Linked DNA regions of Homo sapiens. The protein of the gene in region 2 purifies or fractionates together with the protein of the main gene of each other region. This does not show direct contact. Each region holds a gene or a part of one and is shown on either strand. Other genes may lie near its edges.

Region 1 (3,500 bases), on a different chromosome or scaffold from region 2:
TGTGATCTGTGATAGTTTCTTTTGTCAACCTTTTTCTTCTTCTCCTTCCTTGCTGCCTGATTGTCCCCAGCCATCCCAGCTCAGTAGCTTTTCCTGGGATAACTGTGATGAAGGGAAGGACCCTGCGGTGATCAGAAGCCTGACTCTGGAGCCTGACCCCATCATCGTTCCTGGAAATGTGACCCTCAGTGTCATGGGCAGCACCAGTGTCCCCCTGAGTTCTCCTCTGAAGGTGAGCCTGGGGGTGGGTGGAGAAGGGGAGGTGCGAGGGTCTGGCCAGCAGGGGTACTGGGGCATGTATGCTTGGGGAACTGTGAAGAATTTCAGAATCCTGGATTCCCAGAGAATAGTACAGGACATGTAGATTCAGACACTCTTTCACAGGTTCATGGAATCTCAGGATCATAAGATTGAAAGGAATCTCTGATGTCAGCGCCAGCAACTTCCTGGTGAGGGCAGGAGTGACGGATACCTTGCACCTGGCAGAAGCGTCCTGGCCTTCTCTGGGCCTGGTGGCCAACTGCTCATTATTGTCTGACAGCTCTGGTTGGCCAATTTGGTTTTGTTGTTAATTATAAAATTGATATACCAATTAGCCAGTAATATATAGTCACTTTAGAAAACACAAGTGGTCAAAAAATAAATAAAATAGGCCAGGTGTGGTGGCTCATGCCTGTAATCCCAACACTTTGGGAGGCTGAGGTGGGTGGATCTTTTGAGGTCAGGAGTTTGAGACCAGCCTGGCCAACATAGTGAAACCCCATCTCTACTAAAAGTACAAAAATTAGCTGGGCGTGGTGGCATGTGCCTGTAATCCTAGCTACTCAGGAGGCTGAGGTAGGAGAATTGCTGGAACCCAAGAGGCAGAGGTTGCAGAAAGCCAGGATCGCACCACTGCACTCCAGCCTGGGTGACAGAGTGAAACTCTGTCCCAAAATAAATAAATAAATAAAATAAATCACTTGAAATCTCACTACCTAGTGATAAGGGATAAGCACTTTTAACATCTTATAGGATATTCTTTGCAACTTTCCCCCATACAATTACATACATAACACACATATTTATTTTTAATGGATATGTATGATAATAGGCAGTGCTCATTGTAAATGTCCTCCAGTAATCTAAATCCTAGAGATAGTCAGTGTTTGCTCTTTATATATCCCATCAGAATTTTTATGTGTTTGTAAATATATACACACTTATACTCATGGGATTATATGATATGTGCTATTATACTTGCTATTTTTTTTGCCTCATACTATATGTCCATATCTTTCCAAGGATTAGGTGGCTCTACTTATTCAATTTTTTTTTATCCAATCATTATTTTATTATTTTAATGTATTGTAATTTTAGAGACAGTGTGTCACTCTGTTGCTCAGGCTGGAGTGCAGTAGTGTGATCATGGCTTACTGCAGCCTTGACCTCCTGGGCTTAAGGGATCCTCCCACCTCAGCCTCCTGAGTAGCTGGGACCACAGGTTCATGTCACCATGCTTACCTAATTTTTTTATTTTTTATGGAGACGGAGCCTCCCTGTGTTGCCCAGGCTGGTCTCAAACTCCTGAGTTCAAGCAATCCTCCTGCCTCAGACTCTCAAAATGTTGGGATTATAGGCGTGAGCCACCTTGCTCAGCCCACCCAATCATTTTTAATGGCAGAAATATTCTGATGTGGATCTTTCATAATTTATATAACAAGTCTATTGTTGAACATTTAGTTTGTTTCCAGGGTAGTTTTTATTTGTTTGTTTGTTTATTTGTTTGTTTTGAGACAGGTTCTTACTCTGTTGCCTAGGCTGGAGTGCAGTAGCGCAATCTCAGCTCCCTGCAACCTCCACTTCCCGGGTTCAAGCGATTCTCCTGTCTCAGCCTCCCAAAGTGCTGGGATTACAGGCACCTGCCATTGCGCCCCACTAATTTTTGTATTTTTAGTAGAGATGGGGTTTCACCATGTTGGCCAGGCTGGTCTTGAACTCCTGACCTCAGGCAATGTGCCTGCCTCGGCCTCCCAAAGTGCTGGGATTACAGACACCTGCCACCATGCCCAGCTACTTTTTGTATTTTTAGTAGAGATGGGGTTTCACCATGTTATCCAGGCTGGTCTTGAACTCCTGACCTCAGGCAATCCACCTGCCTCAGCCTCCCAAAGTGCTGGGATTATAGGCTTGAGCCACTGTACCTGGCCAGAGGGTTTTTTTTGTTTGTTTGTTTTTTGTTTTGCTGTAGTAACCACCTTTGTAGAAATTATTCTTATAGTACATCTTTTTATAATTTTCTGATTCTCTAGATACACACTTTTTAGGTCTTTTGATACATTTTGCCAAAGTGCCTCCCAATGTTTGAATAAACCTGCATCATTCCTAGTGAGCGTAGATGTCTATTCATAAGTTTATTTGCCTTTTGTATTTACTTTGGGAATAACCTGTTTGTTTCCATCCATTGACTATTTTAGGGGTGTATGTTTTTATATTTTCTTAGAAAACAATGAAGACTTTTCATATATCCATTGCAACACCATTTAATATGGTCCTTTCCTCTCTAGCTAAAATTGCTACCTTTATATGATGCTCCTCTATGCCCTTCAGTCTGTTCCTGATCCAGATCTATTCTAGTACCAGTTTTGTGTTAATTATTTAGAAGATTCCTGATTTGGATTCTGTGTTTCTATCATTATCCTTAGACCTGTCTTAATCACAGCTCCTACGTTATGGGCTTTCCTTGAGCAATACCTGAGTTAGAAAATCATGTGGAAAGTGCTTTGCACAGGGCCTGGCACCCAGGACATGCTCAGTACATTTTATATCTTGTGAACATTTCGATTAGTATCTGTCTTATCCTGCAGTCTCTTGACCCAGACACAAGTCCTGGATATGTGGCAGCTTTCAGCTCCCCTGCACCTCCTACCAAGCCTTTTCCTAGCAGAGTCATTGTGTTTCCATTACTGTTCCTCAAGTGATAGGGGGTCAAGCCCTGTACCCTTGGATCTGGGCCAAGGGATGGAATCATTCCCTATGTATGGACACTGGACTGTTTCTCTGCCAGGGTCACACACATTTATTTGTGTGCTCCCTCTGCTGATCTGGAGTGTGGGCTCTCCTGGTAGGCCGTCCGCCATGCTCCCTCTGCTGCCATCACCATGCAGCCACTGGTGTTTCCAGGGAGGGGGCTATGCAGCTGACTTGGAAACAAGAAGCTGGCAAACCCGCTCTTCTGCCCTCAGCCTGCTTTTCCTGGCTTCTTCACAAACCATTAAGATGGGTTTTACTCCCTATTCTCCTTTTCCATTGCTTTATTACCTTTCATAAATTTGGGCCTACATAATCTCCTCTGTCTTTACTGTCACTTGTGCTTAGGAAAAATTAGCCTCAGATCCCCTCTGCTCCTTCTTTTTCCCCAATTTCTTTTTTTTTTTTTTTTTTTTTGAGATGGAGTTTCACTCTGTTGCCTAGACTGGAGTGTAGTCGCGCGATCATGGCTCATTGCAACCTCTGCCTCC
Region 2 (3,054 bases):
AGGCATATTTGAAATCCTTTTGCCACAAACTTAACCTATTTAATTGTTTTGATTTTTTTTTTTAAGACGTTGATGGGAGTTGTGAGGAGTCTTCCTGTGTTGCCCAGGCCAGCCTCCTGAACTGAACTCAAATGATCCTTCCACCTCAGAATAGCTGGGATTATAGGTGTGCACCACTGCACCTGGCTAGTTGTTTTGATTCTAAATTTAGTTTTGTTAAAATGAATCACATTTGCTTTAAAAATAATGATGTTTTCAAAATACAGTGATATAGGCCAGGCACAATGACTCATGCCTGTAATCCCAGCGCTTTAGGAAGCTGACGCAGGAGGATCACTTCAGCCTAGGAGTTTGAGCCTGGGCAACAAAGTGAGACCCTGCCTATACAACAGAATTAAAAATTAGCCAGGCATGGTGGCATGTGCCTGTGGTCCCAGCTACACTGGAGGCTGAGGCAGGAGGATCCCTTGAACCCAGGAAGTTGAGGCTGCAGTGAGCCGTGTTCATGCCACTGCACTGCAGCCTGGGTGACAGAGCAAGACTCTGTCTCAAAAACAGAACAAAAACAAAAGCAAAATACAATGATACAGGTAAAATATTTCAAAGCCAACTTTAGTTACTAAGTGAAAAATGTGATGTTAAGCCCAGTACATTAAAGATGAAGGAAGATGTTAATCACCACCACCACCCCTCCTCCCCACATACCTTCTCTGAACTGGATCTTTTGAACGATATATATAGGGAACTAAATTAGCAAGAAAAAATGTAAAGAAATTAAAGGGTAATTTGTGACTTGACAAGATAAAAGTAGAAATGTTTCAGAAAAATTTTAGGGCATAGGGAATACAGTTGCATTAAAATTACCATTTGAGGTTTCAAAATTGTTATTTGCCTAAGCTGTACATCTGAGCTTTCTGATTCAGTGTGCGTGGAAGGGGCCCAGGCATATATATTTGGACAAAACTCACAGGTATGTATACCTCTGAAGAAGAACCATGGTTGTACAATGAAATGTGTTATCTTGAGGCTATTAAGTTTCTTTCTCATCAATCATTTGATCTTTGTGTCTCTGTAGGTTTTTCAATAAAATGGGCTTGACATTAACTCTCTGCCTACATAAGTTGGAGTTGTGGGCTCTTTCCTCCATCTCTCTTCGTATTACTTATATACTCCTCTTCTGATTTCAGGCTAAATTTATTGTGAAGAAATCAGAAGATGAAGAAGACGCCGCTAAAGATACTTATATTATTGAATGCCAAGGAATTGGGATGACAAATCCAAATCTATAGAGTATTTGCCTCTTAAATGATACCTCATTGATATATTGCACTATTTCATAAATACTATAAAATAATGACTAGGAAGTAACTTATTAAAGGCTATGACTTAAATTTGAAGATGAAGTACAGTGTTCTAGGTTTGCTGAGAAGGCTTCATTAAATTAATCTCACTTTGAATATCTCCTGAGAGATGGACAATGAAATATCAGTTGGTGGATATGTGTGATAGCTGATTTCAATATTGAAGTATTGAAATAAAATATTCTTTACACCTGAAGTAAATACATTTTTCTTTTTTATGTAATTAATTAAATCAGGGATATAGATTTGATCTGTAATTTGGGTATAATTCTAATCTTTGCTGAAATCACATCTCAAGTATAATGAGGCAACTTTATGCAAATGTACTTGTTGTGACAACAATAACATTTTCCTTTTTTTTTTTTTTTTTTGAGACAGTCTCGTTCTGTCACCCAGGCTGGGGTGCTGTGGTGTGATCTTGGCTCACTGCAACCTCTGCCTCCCGGGTTCAAGCAATTCTACTGCCTCAGCTTCCTGAGTAGTTGGTATTACACCACCATGCCCAGCTAATTTTTGTATTTTTAGTAGAGACAGGGTTTCACCATATTGGTCAGGCTGGTTTCGAACTCCTGACCTCGTGATCTGCCCGCCTCGGCCTCCCAAAGTGGTGGGATTACAGGCGTGAGCCAGTGCACCCGGCAACAATAACATTTAATAGGCATTGTCTCATTCTAATGATATATACCTTCTACCTAGTGGGCACTTTGTACATATTTATTTTTTATTTTATTTATTCATTTTTTTTGAGACAGAGTCTCACTCTGTCACCAAGTTGGAGTGCAGTGGCACAATCTCAGCTCACTGCAACCTCCGCCTTCCAGGTTGAAGTGATTCTCCAGCCTCAGCCTCCCGAGTAGCTGGGACTCCAGGCACGTACCACCATACCCAGATAATTTTTGCATTTTTAGTAGAGACGGGGTTTCACCATGTTGGCTAGGATGGTCTCCATCTCCTGACCTCGTGATCCGCCCACCTTGGCCTCCCAAAGTGCTGGGATTACAGGCATGAGCCACCACAGCTGGTCGTAAATATTTTTTGAATTTGAATCTGTTTTGGAAGCCAAATATGTTTTGGAAGCCAAACAATTAAGAGAAGTAAAATTTTAACCCTAGTAGGTTTCGCAGATTCATCCCCAGATATGTTTTTGTTTGGCTTGTGTTATTAACAAATAAATGAGTGTCTTTCAAATGGAATGTGCTTTCATTATTCTCTGTTATCTTACACCCAACATGCTTCCACATTTAGATGTTTTCCTGTTCCCGGTAGCAGTTGAGGTTGTGACTCAAAGGAAATCAGTTTGGTATGTCAGCTTAATGTGTTGTACTACAATAGAGTGTGTAATTCATTAAAACTTGGGTCTATCTTGGACCTTTTCTCATGATGATTAAAACATAGTCCAAAATGTAGATCCAGAGGATGCTCTATGATACATTTAGAAAGTCCTGAATTAGTCTGTATGGAACAGTAAAATGAAAAAAGTTGCCATGTACATAGTCATTATTCTTATCCTTGTCTGTGATATCTATGACCTTGGACAGTTGGGTTCAATTTGCTTTAAAGTTGATAATAGTGTTACTTGCTGTTTATGTTTTCACATAGTGGGTAAGTTTTGTAAGTTATTCATTTCTGTAATAGTTGAGATATATCTTTCTATTTTAGAGTAAAACTTTTTTAGAGTAATACTACACTTGTT

What was found. The genes of interacting proteins can lie anywhere in the genome.
Region 1: the proteins of RTCA (region 2) and GM2A purify together in Homo sapiens (affinity purification with mass spectrometry; one large-scale study listed by BioGRID and IntAct). This does not show direct contact.

What each region holds. Positions count from the first base shown.
Region 1 is NC_000005.10:151,259,685-151,263,184, forward strand, and holds part of GM2A (ganglioside GM2 activator isoform 1 precursor), read left to right. Parts: intron 1-70; coding exon 71-232; intron 233-3,500.
Region 2 is NC_000001.11:100,290,216-100,293,269, forward strand, and holds the end of RTCA (RNA 3'-terminal phosphate cyclase), read left to right. Parts: intron 1-1,187; coding exon 1,188-1,289; 3' UTR 1,290-2,554; downstream 2,555-3,054.